3 linked regions of the Homo sapiens genome follow. The protein of the gene in region 1 interacts with the protein of each later gene in a biochemical or structural test. Each region holds a gene or a part of one and is shown in the gene's direction. Other genes may lie near its edges.

What was found.
Region 2: the proteins of PSMD9 (region 1) and ELSPBP1 form a complex in vitro, tested with the Homo sapiens proteins (one study listed by BioGRID).
Region 3: the proteins of PSMD9 (region 1) and UPF2 form a complex in vitro, tested with the Homo sapiens proteins (one study listed by IntAct).

What each region holds. Positions count from the first base shown.
Region 1 is NC_000012.12:121,912,718-121,918,848, forward strand, and holds the end of PSMD9 (26S proteasome non-ATPase regulatory subunit 9), read left to right. Parts: intron 1-3,138; coding exon 3,139-3,227; intron 3,228-3,566; coding exon 3,567-3,594; 3' UTR 3,595-5,580; downstream 5,581-6,131. UniProt on the Homo sapiens protein: Acts as a chaperone during the assembly of the 26S proteasome, specifically of the base subcomplex of the PA700/19S regulatory complex (RC).
Region 2 is NC_000019.10:48,004,632-48,011,631, forward strand, and holds part of ELSPBP1 (epididymal sperm-binding protein 1 precursor), read left to right. Parts: intron 1-2,450; exon of another isoform or gene 2,451-2,592; coding exon of another isoform or gene 2,593-2,710; intron 2,711-4,019; coding exon of another isoform or gene 4,020-4,036; coding exon 4,037-4,106; intron 4,107-7,000.
Region 3 is NC_000010.11:12,039,810-12,046,688, reverse strand, and holds the start of UPF2 (regulator of nonsense transcripts 2), read left to right. Parts: upstream 1-3,879; 5' UTR 3,880-3,934; intron 3,935-6,879. UniProt on the Homo sapiens protein: Involved in nonsense-mediated decay (NMD) of mRNAs containing premature stop codons by associating with the nuclear exon junction complex (EJC).

The sequences.
Region 1 (6,131 bases):
TAGCCAGGTGTGGAGGATTGTGCCTGTAGTCACAGCTACTCAGGAGGCTGAGGCAGGAGAATCGCTTGAGCCCAGGAGGCAGAGGTTGCAGTGAGCTAAGGGATTGCATCACTACACTCCAGCCTGGGCAACAGGAGTGAAACCCTGTCTCAAAAAAAAAAAAAAAAAAAGAAAGAAAAAGAAAGGTCTATTCAAGTCCTTTGCTCATTTTCTTTTCTTTTCTTTTTTTTTTTTTTTGAGACGGAGTCTCGCTCTGTCACCCAGGCTGGAGTGCAGTGGCACAATCTCGGCTCACTGCAAACTCCGCCTCCTGGGTTGACGCCATTCTCCTGCCTCAGCCTCCCGAGTAGCTGGGACTACAGGCGTCCACCACCAAGCCTGGCTAATTTTTTTTGTGTGTGTATTTTTAGTAGAGATAGGGTTTCACTGTGTTAGCCACGATGGTGTCAATCTCCTGACTTTGTGATCTGCCCACCTTGGCCTCCCAAAGTGCTGGGATTACAGGCGTGAGCCACCGCGCCTGGCCTTTTTTTTTGTATTTTTAGTAGAGACGGGGTTTCACCGTGTTAGCCAGGATGGTCTTGATCTCCTGACCTCATGATCCGCCTGCCTTGGCCTCCCAAAGTGTTGGGATTACAGGCGTGAGCCACCACACCCAGCCCTTTGCTCATATTCTAATCAGATTTTTTTGTTGATGTTGAGGTATAGGAGTTCTTTATATGTTCTGGATGTTAAATCCTTATTAGATATATGATTTGCATGTATTTTCTTTTTTCTTTTTTTTTTTTTTTTAAGACAGAATCTCACTCTGTCACCCAGGCTGGAGTGCAGTGGCACATTCATGGCTCACTGCAGCCTTGAGCTTCTGGGCTCAAGTGATCCTCCCACCTCAGCCTCCCAAGTAGCTGGGACTACAGATGTGCGTCATCAAGCCTGGCTAATTAAAAAAAATATATGTTTTTTGTAAAGACGAGATCTCTCTTTGTTGCCGGGCTGGTCTTGAACTTTTGAGCTGAGGCAGTCCTCCTGCCTGGGCCTCTGAATGTGTTGGGATTACAGGCATGAGCCACCGTACCCAGCATGTATGTATTTTCTCCTATCATGTGGGTTGCCTTTTCACTCTGTTAATAGTGTCATTTGATACATAGAAGTTTTAGATTTTGATGGCATCTTGTTTTATTTATTTATTTTTATTTTTTTGAGACAGGGTCTCACTCTGTTGCCCAGGCTGGAGTGCAGTGGTGCAGTCACAGCTCACTGCAGCCTTGACCTCCCTTGAGCAATCCTCCTGCCTCAGCCTCCCGAGTAGCTGGGACTATAGGTGCACACCACCATGCCTCGCTAATTTTTATACTTTTTGTAGAGTCAGGGTTTCACCATGCCCAGCCTGGTCTTCAACTCCTGGGCTCAAGTGATCTTCCTGCCTCCCAAAGTGCTGGGATTACTGGCGTGAGCCACCGTGCCTGGATATCGTATTTTAATTTGTAATTTTTTTGGTATGTACTCCCCCTGCTTTAATTTTAATTTTTTAAATTAAAGTACTATATACAGGCTGGGTGTGGTGGCTCATGCCTGTAATCCCAGCACTTTGGGAGGCTGAGGTGGGTGGATCACCTGAGATCAGGAGTTCAAGACCAGCCTGGCCAACATGGCGAAACCCCATCTCTATTAAAAATACAAAAATTATCTGGGCATGGTGGCACGTGCCTGTAATCCCAGTTGCTCAGGAGGCTGAGGCAGGAGAATTGCTTGAACCGGGGAGGCGGAGGTTGCAGTGAGCCGAGATTGTGCCACTGTACTCCAGCCTGCGCGACAGAGAACCCATCTCAAAAAAAAGAAAGTAATACATACATGCCAGGTGTGGTGGCACATGCCCAAAATCCCAGCACTTTGGGATGCTGAGGTGGGCAGATCACTTGAGCCCAGGAGTTTGAGACCAGGCTGGCCAGTATGGTGAAACCCTGTCTCTACTAAATATACAGAAACATTAGCTGAGCATGGTGCTGCATGCCTGTAGTCCCAGCTACTCAGGAGGCTGAGGCACGAGAATTGCTTGAACCTAGGAGGCTGAGGTTGCGGTGAGCTGAGATTGCACCACTACACTCCAGCCTGGGCAACAGAGCAAGACTCTGTCTCAGAAAAATAAAGCAATACATACGCATGGTTAAAAAATTAATGATATGGAAATATATAAAAGTAAACATCTTCTTTTTCCAAAGGACTAGTCCTCTCTGGAAGTAACCACTCTTAACAAGTTTTTCCATGTTCTTCCAGAAAACTTCGCACACTAGAGCAACACAGGTGTCCTTTTAGAAAATATTATCGGCCGGGCACGGTGGCTCACACCTGTAATCCCAGCACTTTGGGAGGCTGAGGTGGGTGGATCACCTGAGATCAGGAGTTCTGAGACCAGCCTGGCCAACATGGCGAAACCCTGTCTCTACTAAAAATACTAAAATTAGGCGGGTGTGGTGGCGGGCACCTGTAGTCCCAGCTACTCAGGAGGCTGGGGCATGAGAATTGCTAGAACCTGGGAAGCAGAGGTTGCAGTGAGCCAAGATTGTGCCACTGCACTCCAGCCTGGGTGACAGAGTGAGACTGTGTCTCAAAAAAAAAAAAAAAGAAAGAAAATATTATCAAATAGGTTCATACTTTGGTGGGGTTTTGGTTTGTTTTGACTAAAACCCTTCATTCTCTGTACTGTATTTGAACAATACCTATTGATGGACATTTCTGGTGTTTTCAGTTTTTGAATTTCTACACAGTCCTGGAATGAACATTTCATTTGTATGTCTCGCTAATTTTTATACTTTTTGTAGAGTGCTGGGATTACAGGCATTTGTATGTCTTGTAATTTGTATGTCATCTTGCAATTGTGTACTATGTACCTTGGATGTACCTTTTAAAGATCGTTGGTGGTGGGACACGTGTTTTTTGAGGAAGATGGTACTGAGGTCAGCACCCTGGCTGCCCTGAGAGTGCAGTGCCACGTTCCCCACCCTCTCGCCAACCACAGGATTATGCTGCAAATGTAAATCTTTACCAATTTGATAGGCAAAAAATGGGATCTCAGCATTTTAGCCTGCATCTCTGAGTACTAACGAGGCTGAACACGAAATGAGCTTATTTTCTTTTCAGAAGCCCCTGAATGTGACAGTGATCCGCAGGGGGGAAAAACACCAGCTTAGACTTGTTCCAACACGCTGGGCAGGAAAAGGACTGCTGGGGTAAAGTATCTGTTTCTGTTCATTCTCACTGGGGCATCATTTGAGTGTTTGTTAAACATGAAGCTGGAGGGGAAGGCTGGGGAGACATTGGGGAATAATGGGAATCCCCAGTTTGCATGGAAACTGCAGATAAATCCTCGTGGTAGGAACGAGACTACAGCTCTAGAAGCAGAGGGAGCCCCAGAGTCTCTCCTGGGAGTCTCTCCAGTTCATTCATGCACTAGGCATTTGCTTTAAAAGAATGAAAGAACATTGGTGAAAAGGTCAGAAGGGCTCAGCCTCTGACCTTCCTGAAGGGAGCCTCCAAACTTACGCCATTCCTTTTCTTCTTTCTTCCAGCTGCAACATTATTCCTCTGCAAAGATGATTGTCCCTGGGGAACAGTAACAGGAAAGCATCTTCCCTTGCCCTGGACTTGGGTCTAGGGATTTCCAACTTGTCTTCTCTCCCTGAAGCATAAGGATCTGGAAGAGGCTTGTAACCTGAACTTCTGTGTGGTGGCAGTACTGTGGCCCACCAGTGTAATCTCCCTGGATTAAGGCATTCTTAAAAACTTAGGCTTGGCCTCTTTCACAAATTAGGCCACGGCCCTAAATAGGAATTCCCTGGATTGTGGGCAAGTGGGCGGAAGTTATTCTGGCAGGTACTGGTGTGATTATTATTATTATTTTTAATAAAGAGTTTTACAGTGCTGATATGACCCTGTTGTCACCCCAGCTGAATTTCTTATGACCCTCCCAAACCAAAGCTCAGATGGGGTCAGAAGAGCTTCATAGAAAGTTGGGCAAAACAGGCTAGCAATTGCAAAGTCAGGCTTTGACCAACATATTTCTTTGCACTGAGGCCTTGCTGCTGTGGATACGGAAATGGTTAAGTACTGTGCTTCCTCAGCAGCTGGGCTGTCAGGGCCATAGTAGCTCCCTTTGGAGAACAGGGAAAGCCTGGAGGCTTCCCAGGTGGCCCAGCGTGGTGTCCTGTCAGCTTCCTCTTTAGGAACCCACCAGAGGGCAGCAAGCTCCTTTCACTTCGCTAGTAAGAACCCCTCCGTTTTTGTGTGTTTTTGTTTTTGTTTTCTGGAGACAAGGTCTTGCTTTGTCACCCAGGCTGGAGTGCAGTGTCGTGATCAAGGTTCACTGAAGCCTTGACGCTGTGGGCACTGCCTCAGCCGCCCAAGTATCTGGGACCACAGGCGTGCACCACCATGCATAGCTAATTTATTTTTTGTAGAGACAGGGTCTCCCTGTGTTGACCAGGTTGGTCTCGAACTCCTGGGCTCAAGCAGTCCTCCTGCCTTGGCCTCCTAAAGTGCTGGGATCACAGGCGTGAGCCACTGCGCCCAGCCCACTGCTAGTTTGACTTTTTATAATTGAACCTCCTGGCTATGCCCTGAGATCAGCGCTATTTTGTAAACCGCTGAGGTATGGATAGGAACGAGTAGATCAGACCTCTTGAAAATGCTTATTCTTCCTCCCTTTTATTTTTTGTCTCTTTTAAGATGGTAAAATGGTTCTCAGGGATTCCTGCCAATACTTTGAATTATTTTTTCCTCTCCATGGTATCAGTGTTCATTTCCCCAGTTCTTGCACACCGCTTTCTGTTTTGGCAGTTCTGCCAGGCAAGCCCTGTGTTCCTTGGGACTGGTTTTGCTGTGGTTGGATACAGATACCAGCTTGCCTTGATGGGATTGGTATTGCTGTGTGCTTCCAGCCACAGGTTCTCACACTCAATTCCAAAGCCTTCCTATTGGGCGAATTCCCTCAAACTCTATTTGACCTGACAGCCATACGTATTCCCCTCTGGTAGCCACAGACATGCTGTGTTTACCAATGTTTGCTGTTTAAATTGCATGTTCTAATTCCACGTATTTTCCAGTCTCTTTTATAAAGTCTCAGACTATAATAAACACAGCTTGCCCAGTTTATCCTTTCTTTTTTATTTTAAGATGTATGCATATTAATCAATTTACCATCACTGGGGCATGGCAGTGTGGGCGGGGAGAATTATTCACATTCTCCTAAAATGACAGCAGCAGAGAGCCTTCTGCCTCAGTGGCTCTGGCTGGTTTCCTGCAGGGGTCCCAGTGGAAACCCGTGTGGCCACCTGTTGCCGTCTTCCATGAGATGTTAGTGGAGAGCCACTTTGACGTGGAATGATCCTAATAGATATAGCCAGACCGGTTTTGCGGAAACGCTTTGTGCTGAGAACCGCAAGCTGGTGCACCCTGTGTCATATCTGCCCCCAGCCAGCTGGAATTGTCTGCAACACGCGGTGCCCGGTGAGGAGGCAGGCAGGACGGTTGTGTGCTGCATCCATGAGACCTGGAAATTCAGTTTGCTTTTGGAAAAGAGCATTGTATCCGAGTTCATACTTCTCCACCCCATCTTGCCAAGGTTGCGGAAAGTAAAAATTGGCAGTATTGGCCGCTGCAGCTTCTTAGGGGACGGGACCATGTGAAAAGGTGGGATCGTGCGAGCGGAGGAAGGACAGAAAAGCGAGGAAAGTCTATGCCGCCAGCGACCGGCAGGAGGCACGTCGGGCACGCTCGTCACCGTTTCCTGGCACGTGACCACCGCCCTGCCCTGTCGCTTTAGGGCCTGTCGCTTCCGGCGGTGGCGGTTGCCATGGGGACGGAGCTTGGGTGGCAACCAGAACTAGGGAGCTGGTGGAGAAGGTGGCGGCCGCTGGAAGGAGGCCCGGGAGGTGGCTGAGGGGTCCAGGCGGCGGGACGACTCTGGCCTTTTGAAGACCGGGGTGGGTGCTCTCTGTAAGTCCGGGGCGGAGGCCACGCGGCCCTGGCGAGGGGGCCCCCGACCTGGCGGGGTCTGGTGCCCCTTGGGGGGCGCTCACCCGACCTGGCCCTTGTGGGGCCTGGGGCGGCCCCAGGGAGACCTGAGTTGGAGGCAG
Region 2 (7,000 bases), on another chromosome or scaffold:
TCTCAGAGCACCCTCCCCTCACCTCTCAATCAAAAGTGACCTTGTCCTAGTTGTTCCTGAGACTCGTCCACAGCAATGATCACAGCGAAGAGTTGTATTTGTTTCTGGTTTCTTCGCTTCATATCTGTCTCCTTGGTTGACTCTCAGCCCCACGAAGGCAGGGCCTATGCCTGCTTTACCCACTGCTGCATACTCATCGTGTAGCCCTGGCCCCACATCTTTTAAATGCTCAATAAATACTCATTCCTGAGTGGATGCATAAAGCATGCATCAGGAAAGGGCCCATACTGGGCACAGTGGCTCTTGCCTGTAATCCCAGTGCTTAGGAGGCTACGCAGGAGGATGGCTTGGGCTCAGGAGTTTGAGACCAGCCTGGGCAACATAGCAAGACCTCGTCTCTACAAACAATAATAATAGTTTAAAAATTAGCTGGGTGTGGTGATGCGTGCCTGTAGTCCCAGCCACTTGGGAGGCTGAGGTGGGAGGATCACTTGATGGGAGATGGAGGCTGTAGTGAGCCATGATGGCGCCACTGCACTGCAGCCTGGGTGACAGAGCAAGACCCTGTCTCAAAAAAAAAAAGAAAAGAAAAAAGAAAAAAACAAAAAGAGAAAAAGAGCTCAGCCTTGTAGAGGAGAGAGGCTGGAGGCTGCATATCAGTGAGGCAACAGGACAACAGTTGAATAGTTGAGAAGAGAAATGAAAAAGGCCTTCCTTTAGTCTTTAACAGCAGAGGCAGGAAAAGCGGATAGATTCAGGAGCTCCAGAAAGTAGAACCAACTGACTGATAGAACACAGCAAGAGACAGGGACAGCAGATCTACACTGGGGGCTACAACTCAGGTGGTTGAGAAGAACATAGTGCAATTAAATGAAGTAACATGGGGGAAGGATAGCATATTTTGGGCTGTATCTCAACAGCCAAAGCTTGGAATTTGAGATGCTTGAAGGACATCTAGGTGGACATGTCTGGGAGGCAGTTGAAAATACAGTTCTGGCTCTCAGAAGTGAAACAATACTATATGAACAATACTATTTTGGATGATATTTATGAGTTCTTAGCACATGTCCGGTCCCATGTTAAGCCTAGAGGCAGCATCGTACATTGGTTAAGAGCTCAATTACTCTGAACTGAGTCAGATTGTTGGAGTTCACTTGCAAGTTCTCCAACTTGCATGATCTGTAACCCTCAGCAAGGTGCTTAAGCTTACTGTGCCCCATCTGTGCATATCTGGGGTAGTAATGGTACCTACCACGTTGGGCTACTTCCTATCAGGATTACAGTGAATTTAGAATAGTGTGTAGCACTCAATGAGTTTTATCTGTTTTTTGTTTTGTTTTGTGTTTTGAGACAGAGCCTTGCTGTGTCGCCCAGGCTGGAGTGCAGTGGTGCGATCATAGTGCACTGCAGCCTCGACCTCCTGGGCTCCAGTGATCCTCCCACCTCAGCTTCCTGAGTAGCTGGGACTACAGGCATGCACCACCATGCAAGGCTATTTTTTTTATTTTTGTAGAGATGAGGTCTCACTATGTTGTCCAGGCTGATCTCAAACTCCTGGCCTCAAGCAATCCTCCCATCTTGGCCTCCCAAATCTGTCATATTTTTATGATTGTCGTTAATCATCATAACAAGGCTGAGTGGTAGATAGGATTAGCATCCTCATGTTTTGACACGACGAAACTGAGGCTTAGAAAATTTAAGGTTGGGCCCAGTGGCTCACGCCTGTAACACTAGCACTTTAAGAGGCCGAGGCGGGTGGATCATTTGAGGTCAGGAGTTCAAGACCAGCCTGGCCAACGTGGTGAAACCCTGTCTCTACTAAAAATACAGAAATTAGCCAGGCGTGGTGGCACGTGCCTGTAATCCCAGCTACTTGGGAGGCTGAGGCAGGAGAATCGCTTGAGCCTGGCAGATGGAGGTTGCCGTGAGCTGAGGTGGTGCCACTGCACTCCAGTCTGGGCGTCTGGGCGACAGAGTGAGACCCTGTCTCAAAAAAAAAAAAAAAAAAAAAAAAAAGAAAAGAAAAAGAAAATTTAAGTAATTTCCCTGAAGTCACCCAGCTGGTAAACGGTGGAGCTGGGATTTGAATCTGACTCATTCATCCTGCATTGTCAGGTCTAAGTCCTGACTGAGCCACTAGCCAAAGAGAATGAGAGTCCTTCACAAGTAGTGAATGAGACATCACTCAGAAAAAGCCTGTTTGAGGCATGGTGCTGGGGTTAAGAGTAAAAGGCTTCAAGGAAGAACGACAAGAAAAAGGGAGAAAGACACTTTGATGTGTAGCGGGAGAGCCAAGCACTGTTGGGAGAGGAAAAAAGTTTGGGGCGTGTTGTGTGGCTCAGATACTCAGTGGTGCCACCTACCTGTGGGAGGACTTAAATCAGTAACTTTGGGATTTTGATTCCTGGCGGTATCTGGGTTTCTTGCTAAAAGTTGGTTCCATCTGATGCCTTCCCGAGCTATCCTGACCTTGGCTTTAATAATTCATAAATGCCACTAACGATCTACAAGTGAAAAGCATTTTCACATCAAGGTCTAATTGGACCCTCGTGGCCACCCGGAGACACAGGAACGACTAAATACATTCTGCAGATGAGGAAACAAAGGCTCATAGAGGGGAAGGGGTTTACGTTGCCTAAGAACTCTGACACTAGTATAGACAGGCCCGCACTGACTCTGAGATACATCACGTACCAGCTGTGGTCCTTTGGTAAGTTACTTAACCTCCCAAGCCTCAGTTTCCCTTTTCTGTGAAGTGGAGATGATCATGCCTGCCCTTAGATTTTCAGGAGCAAATTGGATTGTGGATACAAAGCTTAGGACATCCGGTATACAGTAAGCAGTCAATAATTGGGAGCCAGCCGTAGAAGTGGTGATAGTAGCTGAGACTCAAGTCAAATCCAGACCACCAATTCCAAACTGTGGGTTCTTGTTGCTGCTGAGAATGGCATGGTCATCTGTCATCAAGGAAACGGCACGAAGGAAAATAGAGCTAGTAATAACTATGGTTAATGAGGACGGTAAATGCTAATCACTGAAGGACTTTCGTCTCCAGCTAAGGAGATGAGTGTGATTCATGGGGAGGATTTAAGGCTATTGTTAAGGTTCCAACAATGAGAAGGGCCCTTGCAGCCATTAATATGGGTTAGAACCCAGACCCTGCCCTTTCCTCCCTGGGTGACCAATCCAGGTCTGAGTGTTAGTTTCTGCATCTATAAAATGGGGGTTAAAACATGTATTACTTGATTTATGAAAGCCAAGTGACATAAAGTGTGTTGAACATCGAGCCTGGAGTACAGTAAGTGTTCAACAAGTGTTTCATTTTTTTCTTTCCATCACACTTTCCTAAGGACAGTACATGACAGTAGAGTTATGCATCAGGAATACAGTCTGAGAAGTGCATTGTTAGGCAATGTCGTCCTTGTGTGAGCATCATAGAGTGTACTCACACGAACCTAGATGGTAGTGCCTGCTACACACCTGGGCTATATGATACAGCCTGTGCTTCCAGGCTACAAACCTGTACATACACACATGTAGAAACACACACACATATCACACACACATATGTAGAAACATATGTGTGTGTGTGGTATATGTGTGTGTATGTGTGTATTTAGAGATAGGGTCTCACTCTGTTACTGAGGCTATAGTACAGTGGCACAATCATAGCTCACTGCAGCCTTGACCTCCTGGGCTCAAGTGATCCTCTTGCCTCAGCCTCCTGAATAGCTGGGACCACAGGCATACACCACCATGCCTGGCTAATTTAAATGAAAATTTTGTAGAGGTGGGGTCTCACTATGTTGTCCAGGCTGGTCTTGAACTTCTGGCTTTAAGCGATCCTTTGTCTTGGTCTCCCAAAATGCTGGGATTACAGGTGTGAGCTACCATGCCTGGTCTATTTTTTAAATTACTGTGGATGGAAAGAAAAATGGCATGTATGACGTCAAATCTAGGAGGTAATGGGAAGAGGAAGGGGACGTGTGGGATGAAAATTTTTGTCTTCTTTTCCACAGAGAAGAGGGCAGCCAAGATGACCCGATGGTCCAGTTACCTGTTGGGATGGACAACCTTCCTTCTCTATTCCTATGAGTCAAGTGGAGGTAAGGACACTCAAAGCAACAGGGAGGATTTAGAAGCTGGAGAAGAATGAATGGGGCAAAGCAAAGATTCCTGGAACTAAGTAGGCAGGAGATGGCTTAGCAAAAATCTCAGAAGAAGCTGGGCGCGGTGGCTGACACCTGTAATCCCAGCACTTTGCAGGGCTGAGGCAGGCAGATCACTTGAGGTCAGGAGTTCCAGAGCAGCCTGCCCAACATGGTGAAACCCCATCTCTACTAAAAATACAAAAATTAGCCAGGCATGGTGGTGAGCGCCTGTAATCCCAGCTACTTGGGAGGCTGAGGCAGGAGAATCGCTTGAACCCAGGAGGTGGAGGTTGCAGTGAGCCGAGATCGTACCACTGAACTCCAGACTGGGAGACAAGAGCAAAACTCCCTCTCAAAAAAAAAAAAAAAAAATCTCAGAAGACCTGGGGTTTGGACCCTGGATCTGCCACTTCTTTTCTTGGTAACTTTGGTCAAGCAACATAAGCTCTCTGAAGTCAATTTCCAGACTGTAAAAGAGAAGTAACGGCATTTATCTCACGGGGTTATTTTGAAGATCAAATAAAATAATGGGCACCAGCATCTTTCATAATGCTCAGCACATGGTGGGGGTAAAAGGCAGGCTATATAATTCCAGTGAACAGAACCTTCAGACCCCAACCTGGACAACCTAATTATATCTTAATATATCTCAGAATCTAAATTAACCACTAAAAGACTGTAAGGTAAGCATGGAAACAGAACAAGAGGAAACCTTGCTTACATGTCATTCACTCAAGCCTTGGTGAGTCATTCTTCACAATTAGAATCCTTTTCTGCCTGATAAATCGTTCTCCTCTGGATAAGGCTCAGGAACCATTTGCATATTGATGCACCTTGATCCCACATTCTTTATTCCAGAGATTCCTAACCTGGGGTCATTGAGTGAGGATTAGAGTCCATGAAAACTGGAATTTACGTTTTAAAAAAAGTGTGTATTTATGAGGGTAGTGAGAATAGCTATTGTAACAAACAAAATCCAAACTATCAGCTGCTTGACACAATAACATTTTTTTTTTCTTGGTTCTGCAAAATCCCAGAAGGGTGCATCTGGTCAGGAAACAATGCTCCACATGGTCATTCAGGGATCCAAGCTTCTTACATCCTGGAGCCCCAACATCCCCTACGGTTTCAGAGTCTGCTGAGGTTTCTTTGCTTTTAGCTTGTAGACAAGTATCAAGAGAGTCTGGAGGACCTTGGAGGAGAGGGTTTTTTGTTTGTTTGTTTTCTTTTGGCCAGGACAGGAAGTGACATTCATCCCTTTCTCCTGCTTCCACTGGCCAAAACTGATATGGCTCTTAACTGCAAGCAAGTCTGGGAGATGCAGTGTAGCAGTGCATTTGGGAGGAAAGTGAAACTGATTTCGGTGAACACACAGCCATCTCAACCATAAGGGCATATGAATATTCTCCTAGAGAGAAGTTCTGGGTTCTCAAAGAACTGACAAATTCCTGAAAGTTTAGGAACTCACAGTTTATTCAGACAAGGAACAATGTACTTGATGGGGTATCCACTTTTCTAGTTATAATCTCATTTTTGTCATGCCTCCCTGAGACCACACCCACATACTTGTGGTGAAACTCAGTATTCCAAGTTCCCTTTGCGTGTATTTACAGATAAATTATTCAGTATACACTTACTGAGTGATCTTTAAGTTCCAGACATTGTGTTATGGACCAGAAGTGCAGAAATAAACAAAACCTAAACCCTCCACTCAGAGAGTTCACAGTAATCGGGAGTTATAGACACATAAATGAATTATTTTTAAAAAATTGGCAACTGCATTCATTTATAGAGATTGACTCTGAGTATTATAAGTGTGAGGAAGAGTATTGACCCAGACTGAGCCAAGTCTTCATGGATGAATAGCAGGGACTAAAGCTGGGAAGAGAGGAAAGGCATTCAGGACAGGGTGAAGGGCAGGACCAAAATCTCAAAGACGAGAAAGAACATGGAATAAGGTCAAGGGAATGTTAATCAGGGAGTGAGAACAGGCAGGTCAGCAGGGTCTGGATTATAGAGGATTGTAACTCAGTTAAGAAGATTAGGCCATCTGCTGGATTACTTTGCAGATGGCTAATAGTATTCATTATGTGCTGATTCTTACTAACGACTCCCAAAGATAACCTTAATTCCACCTACAGGGGCATCTGCCCTCTCCCTCAACACAGTATCCTATATACTCAGTGGTGTTCGTGACTGAGGCAAAGCATTGATAATGACAATAATGACAGTGAAGATGACAATGATAATGATGAGGATGATGATGATATGACGATGATGACAATGATGACGGTAATGATGACAACAATAATAGCGACAATGACAATGATGATGGTGACAGTGATGATGATGACGATGATGATAATGATTATGACAATGATGTGATGAGGAGGAAAATAATGATTACAATAATGATGACAATGATGATGAGAATGACAATAATGGGGTTGATGATGATGATGACAATGATTGATAATGATGATGACAATGACGATGATGATCACCATGATAATGACAATAATGAGGTTGATAATGATGGTGACAATGACTGATGATGATGACAATTATGACGATGATGATGATGATGGTGACAATGATGATGACGATGATAATGATGATGTCAATAATGATGTGATGAGGAGGAGAATAATGATCACGATGACAGTGATGATGATGACAATGACAATAATGAGGTTGATGATAATGACAATGACTGATAATGATGATGACAATGATGATGACAATGACTGATAATGATGACAATGATGATGATGACAATGATGATCATCATCACATGATAATGACAATAATGAGGTGGATTATGATGACAATGATGATGACAACGATGA
Region 3 (6,879 bases), on another chromosome or scaffold:
CCACCATGACCGGCCAATTTTTGTATTTTAGTAGAGGCAGGGTTTCACCATGTTGGCCAGGCTAGTCTCGAGCTCCTGACCTCAGGTGATCCACCCGCCTTGGCCTCCCAAAATGCTGGGATTACAGGTGTCAGCCATAGCGCCCGGCCAAGCCAATATTAATTTACTTTTTTGACTAGCCACATTAAAAGCTTGAAAAATAAAACAGGTTAATCTCACATTGCTTGTGTTCTGTTTTGGTGGAATTCAGAGAAGCCAGTGTTAGTGAACTGATTTTCATCTTACAGTTCCACAAGAAATTCCAACATGATTTGGTAATAAGTACTAATACGTTTCGTATGTTTATATTTGTTTAAATGCACCCTCAATACTTACATTTCTTTTCTTTTTTTATTTTTTGAGACAGAGTTTCGCTCTTGTTGCCCAGGCTGGAGTACAATGGAGTGATCTCGGCTGCCTGCAACCTCCGCCTTCTGGGTTCAACGATTCTCCTGCCTCAGCCTCCCGAGTAGCTGGGATTACAGGCGCACACCACCAAGCCTGGCTAATTTTATATTTTTAGTAGGGACAGGGTTTCACCATGTTGGCCAGGCTGGTCTCGAACTCCCGCCCTCAGGTGATCCGCCCGCCTTGGCCTCCCAGTGTTGGGATTACAGGCGTGAGCCATCACGCCCGGCCGATGCTTATATTTCATATTGAAGGGACACACCTCAACACATTTACTTTTGGAAACTGTTAAGCAGATAGAGGGAACGCTGAAAAAATTTCTACCAGAGATATACCAAGAGGTGGGTATTTTTTAAAAAGCAGCTTAAACTAGGTTAGTTAAACATCGGCTTCTAAAAGATCAAAGCTGGATTTCCTCATGGAACAGAACACTCCCAGTTCTCTGAGGTCAGTGGGCAGAGGCTGTAGTTATAGCTGGTTGGCTTCATCTGATGCATTTTTCTTTTCCTTAAACTCAGGATTTGTCCTGCTCCGTAATTGTAATCTCTTTGCCTGGCCTTTGCTTTCGTCTGTGAAGCTGCCACTAGGTAGGTTTTAAGTAGGGAGTAGTATCGTGTAGGTCTAAATAAAAACTAAATAGTTTCATTCTCTTTTTTCCCCATATAGAACAGTTCTGTCAATTGGAGCAGGCAAAAATAACAATGAACATTTTTGAGACTTTTCTCAAAAATTCATCTTGAGAATGTATTTTCAGAAAATCATGAAGTTTGAATTATTATCCGAATAAAAAAATGATGGCCTCTTCAGAGCGGGGTGTTTTTTCTAGTTAAGAGATTACAATGATATTCCCACATCAGGCTTTTGGTGGCTAGCTTGACATCTGTCTTTGGAAGTAAAATGATTGGCAGCATTCTCAGTTTATGTAAAAGTTTGCATAGAGACATAGCAGAAAGAACTTGGGTTTTTGGAGTTAGATTTGAGAATACTAGATAGTATACTTATTAGTTTTGTGATAGTAAATTCATCTGACTCTATTTTTATAAAATGGTGATTGCGATGAACTAAAATCACAAATGTGAAATAGCAAATTCTCAACAAAAAGGCCCTCCTGTTTTTTGATTTTAGGTGATTTCCTTTTAACACCTGATTAAAGACAAAGGTTGACTTGATTTAGGATGAGAAGGATTTATTATATTTATTAACAAAGAGGTAAAGCTTTTTTCTTTCTTTCTTTTCTTTCTTTTTTTTTTTTTTTTTGAGGCAGAGTCTCACTCTGTTGCCCAGTCCAGAGTGCAGTGGCGCTATCTCGGCTCACTGCAACCTCTGCTTCCCGGGTTCTAAGTGATTCTTCTGCCTCAGCCTCCCGAGTAGCTGGGATTACAGGCGCTCGCCACCACATTTGGCTAATTTTGTATTTTTAGTGGAGACTGGGTTTCACCATATTGGGGCCAGGCTGGTCTGGAACTCCTGACCTCAGGTGATCCACCAGCCTCGGCCTCCCAAAGTACTGAGATTACGGGCATGAGGCACCGCACCAGCCAGAAGTAAAGCTTCTTAAGGTAATCCCATGAAATGGGAAAAGGAAACCTTGAAGAGAAGCGTGGGTGGCTATCACCAATATGGTATTTGGGGCAGTTCTCATAATTGTTTATCAATGCTGCAGAATAGCAGTATTCATCTTTCTCTTTTTTTTTTTTGAGACGGAGTCTCCCTCTGTCGCCCAGGCTGGAGTGCAGTGGCGCAAACTCGGCTCACTGCAAGCTCTGCCTTCCCGGTTCACGCCATTCTCCTGCTTCAGCCTCCGGAGTAGCTGGAACTACAGGCACGTGCCACCACGGCCGGCTAATTTTTTTTGTATTTTTAGTAGAGACGGGGTTTCACCGTGTTAGGCAGGATGGTCTCGAACTCCTGACCTTGTGATCCGCCCGCCTCGGCTTCCCAAAGTGCTGGGATTACAGGCGTGAGCCACCGTGCCCGGCCTTCATCTTTCTCTTTCACTATCCTTTAAATGACTGACCTATGTGTAGTGTATAAAAAATATATATTTTTAAATACAGGAAGCAGCAACACTCAGTATGAGAGGATAATTTGCGTGCTAAGAGTAAATGGGGAAGCAAACAGTAAATAGAGGCAAATGGGCAAAGGTTGAGTCATAGGGAACCTGGACTTGCCTCAAGTATTTGTGGTTGGTAGTAGTTCATTACGTGGGCTTGGGCACCAGGTGGGGCCCCCTCAAGTCAAGCAAACGTCAAGACCAGTTTCGCACCCTTGTTCCTCTAGCTCCGGACCAGCCAGAGCCACCTACTCGGATCATGTTGGCAGAACCCAGTACTGTTTCGAGGCCAGATGCACCATTTCAGCAATTCAGGAGGAAATAAGCAGTGTGGATAAACTGATACCCATTTTTGAAAGTCGGCCTGGGTTCGCATTCAGAAGAAATGTCGACGCTAGCCATTTTTTTTTTAAAATGGGTGATTTGATAACTCAGGGAAGTCTTGCCACTGTAATTTTTAAAAGTTTGCTTGCTAGAACCAGGTACTTTCTAAGAAGTGTATGGAAAAAGCCTTGATTCTTCTTCGCCCTGGGTGGTTTTTACGTCGAACACCTAGAAGTGCTTCTGGAAATCCCCCCGCAGGACTTTCGATGTCTTTTAGGGCATTCTTAAGACTAGACCCATTCCTAAGCGACTCCCACCTCCCAAACCAGCCATATGGTTTAGTTTCTCCAGTTTCCAATTTTCTAAATCTTCAACGTCTCCCCTCGAATTAGTCCAATCAAACTTTCTCTTCTTAGACCTCTTCCTTAGGTTCGCACCAGGAAACGCCCAGGAGAATCACGTGGCCGGGCTTGTCCTTAATGGCGCTCCGTAACCCTCCCACTATTCCACCACACTTCCTCGCCTCCCGTGAGCTCCGCCCCGCCCCATTCGCGCTTCCCACCCCCATCCCCCGCGAAGCGCCTGCGCCTGCGCAGCTCCAATTCAGGCGCTTTCCCTTTCCTGGCGACCAATCCACTTCCTGCCTCGGGTCCTCGGAACACTCCACCCCTCCGCTGGGGCCCTGGTTTGAGGTGCTGGTAGTGGCTACCTTACGTATTGCCAGTCTGAAAAATTCGCTCTTCTCATCGACTGGGGAATTTGAAAGAGCTGTTAAGTGAATGGCACTCATATGAGCCTTTGCCCCGGACCCGCCACCCCAGAGTCAAGCTGAGGGCATCGGCATGCCGCAGGGAAGACGATCAGGACTGTTTTTAATCGGGCAGTCGCGCGGATGGCCTTTTCCCTCTCGCCTCCTTCCGCCCCGCCCCCACTCTCAGCCCGGCCGCGCTGGTGAGTGGCGGGCGGGAGGGCTGGCGGGCGGAGGGAGGAGGGGGAGCTGAGGGAAGGCGGGCCCTCGGCTGCGAGATAGGTGGGGGGAGGGGAGGGGAGAGCCCGAGCGCTGGAGTTGGTGCTGGGAAACCCGGGGCTAATGTTGACAACAGGCTCGAGGTGAGTCCCGGGGATCCTCCTTCCCCTCCGCTCCAACGATCGGGAGGAAATGGGGCTGGGGGGCACCGGCCTAGACTCCTACTCCCTGGGGGACCCCAGAGGCGACTCCACACTCCAGCTCTCCGGGGTCGGCGAGCAGTGGAGGGACCGCGGGTCCGGCGTCGTTCTCCTCAGACCCCCTGTCTCCGAGGCTCCCATCAACGCGGGAGCCCCCGGGCCGGGCCATGCTTGGGGGGCGGTGGAGGAGGTGCCTGCCCCACATGCCTGGGCCGGGCCTCGAGACTGGAGGCGGGGAGCCCGCGGTGGAGGGGCGAAAGTGTTCGGGGGCGTGGAGGAGAGCGAGGGGAGGTCGGGGGAAGCTCCTCGAGAGCCGGGAGGGAAGCGAGGGCGAGAAAGTGGGGAGGGCGCGTGTGTGGGAGGCTGCGGAGTGGGGAGACCGGCCGGGAAGGCTTCTGTGGCGAGGGAGTGTGGGGCGAGAAGTTGGGGTTGGGGCAGCGATGGTCCGCGAAGGTGACCGTGGATACCTGTGGGAAGGGGAGTTGTGTCGGGGAAGTGTGGTGGGTTTAGAGGTTCCTACACCACCAGAGCAGGGGTTTGTAGGAGAGGTATGTGTAGGGGAAGGGGCTTGGGGTGTATCTGGGGATGGTGGGCATGGGCTGTTTGGTTGACTTCCTTTTAATCACATAGGCTGGTTGATTCTTCACTTTACCTTCACCTCTTCAAGGCGCCAAGCACTCTCTTCTTGCTAGGACTGTTGGACTAAGGAAGTGATCACAGGATATTTGGTCCCCAGGTTGGCAGAGCAGAGCCAGCTGGGTCCACGCTGGGGTGATCGGACCTTCAGCTCTCTTGCTCATCTTAGAGGACTTACACGACACGAAACGATGCATCAGATCAAAGTGAAACCCTCGCTGACGCTTTATCTCATTTCCATAGTTCTTAGGTGTTCCTTAACATCGTCAGTCTCCTCATTTGTGAGCTGGTACAATTTCTAACAGTTCTTAATACGTCCTTTATACTAAGGATGTTCTTTAAAAAATAAAGTCAGAAACTGGGAGATAGTGTTCCTGTGCTGTTCTGTCCTGACAGCATTTTGAATAAGAGAATTGAAAGGTAAAACCGCATTCTCTCATACTGGAGTGTTTTCGGAGCACTCTGATTGGGATTTCATACATAATCCATATGGTACTTTGCAAGGGAATGTCTTTAAAAGGGAAACACCCCCTTTTGTGCCCTCTTCCCCCCAATACACTCCATTGGTACTTCTAGTAAATTAGTTTTACTTTCTTTTGGAAGTTCAGAATGTATTTAGAATACCAAATAAAATATACAGTTCAAGTGACAGGACACTATTTTGGGAGCTAGGAAGGTGGTTTTAAAGCATGGTTTCCTTTTAAGGGTAGTCTGAATATAATTGTATTCAGCAAACTAATTTGTAACAGCTAATCGGATTCCAGTGAAAAGATCACGACTTTTTCTCCTCACTATCTTGAGAAAGGACCTATTTAAAATTGTATTTGGACTTGAAAAACTTTTGGAAACACTTTAGATGAAAAGTTTGGCTGTTAAAGCTTGAAGTTATTGAAATAAGAATTTTAGCATTTTATTAAATATCACTTAGTGCTCAGTTTTTTAAGTCGACATAAAACAAACGTGTATTGAGGTGAATCACGGTGTTTGTATATTTTATTCGTTTTAGTGTAGGTAGTGAAAAAGCACTGGGTAGTGAGTGTTGGTCCAGCCACGGAAACTAGCTGTATATATAATCTTGGGTAGGTGACTCTGCTGCTATCCTTGGAATGTAAAAATTGAGGATAGAAGTAGATAAAATCTAATAGTCTTTATCTGACTTTACAAATCTTTCATTGTATGCTGAACTTCTCAGTGTTCTTTGTGACAGAACATTTATTAATGCCTCCCTCATGCTAGTTACTATGCTAGAATTTTAAGAACTCTACAAGATAGATAGCAGTATATCCATCTTATTGATAAATAAGTGGACTCAGAGAAGTTGTTGCCTGATTTCTGTAGCTATCAGGCTGCAGAGTTGGGATGCAGATTTAAAATCAGTCCGACTTCCAAGCCCATGTATGTTGTTTTCACAAGTTGCATTGCTGCCTCTTCATGAACTTCTAGATTTTTGTCTTTTTTTTTTGTTTACGGAAATTTAGTCGCAAGTATACTTTGGGCGTATGCTTGTAATGTAAGGATGAAGTGGTTGAAAGGAGATACCAGTATCAGGACTTAAGGGTTTTACGGAGAATCTGTTTTATTATGTTCTAGGGTACAGTCTAATCCTTTTTTTTGTTTTGTTTTTTGTTTTTTGTTTTTCTTGAGACGGAGTCTGGCTTTGTCGCCAGGCTGGAGTGCAGTGGTGCCATCTTGGCTCACTGCAACCTCCGCCTCCCGGGTTCAAGTGATTCTCCTGCCTCAGCCTCCTGAGTAGCTGGGACTACAGGCGTGTGCTGCCACGCCCAGCTAATTTTGGTGTTTTTAGTAGAGATGGGGTTTCACCATGTTGTTGGCCAGGATGGTTTCGAACTCTTGACCTCGTGATCTACCTGCCTCGGCCTCCCAAAGTGCTGGGATTACAGGCATGAGCCACCATGCCCAGCCCCGAGTCTAATTCTTGCATGCCTACTGCAGCTTTATTTCTTATACTAAGTACTTAAAATTTAATGAAGACATGAATCTTATTAAAGAGTCATGAAAGTTTGGGACTTTGTTGAACTAATAAATGATGATCTTTGTGAATTTGTCAGATACTACATGAATTTCTTAATCTTTTCTTTGAAAAATTTAAGATGTTATTTTATCTTCAGAATGAGACATGCTGCCAGCCACAGTGGCTCATGCCTGTAAATCCCAGAACTTTGGGAGGCCAAGGCAGGCAGATCACCTGAGGTCGGGAGTTTGAGACCAGCCTGACCAACATGGAGAAACCC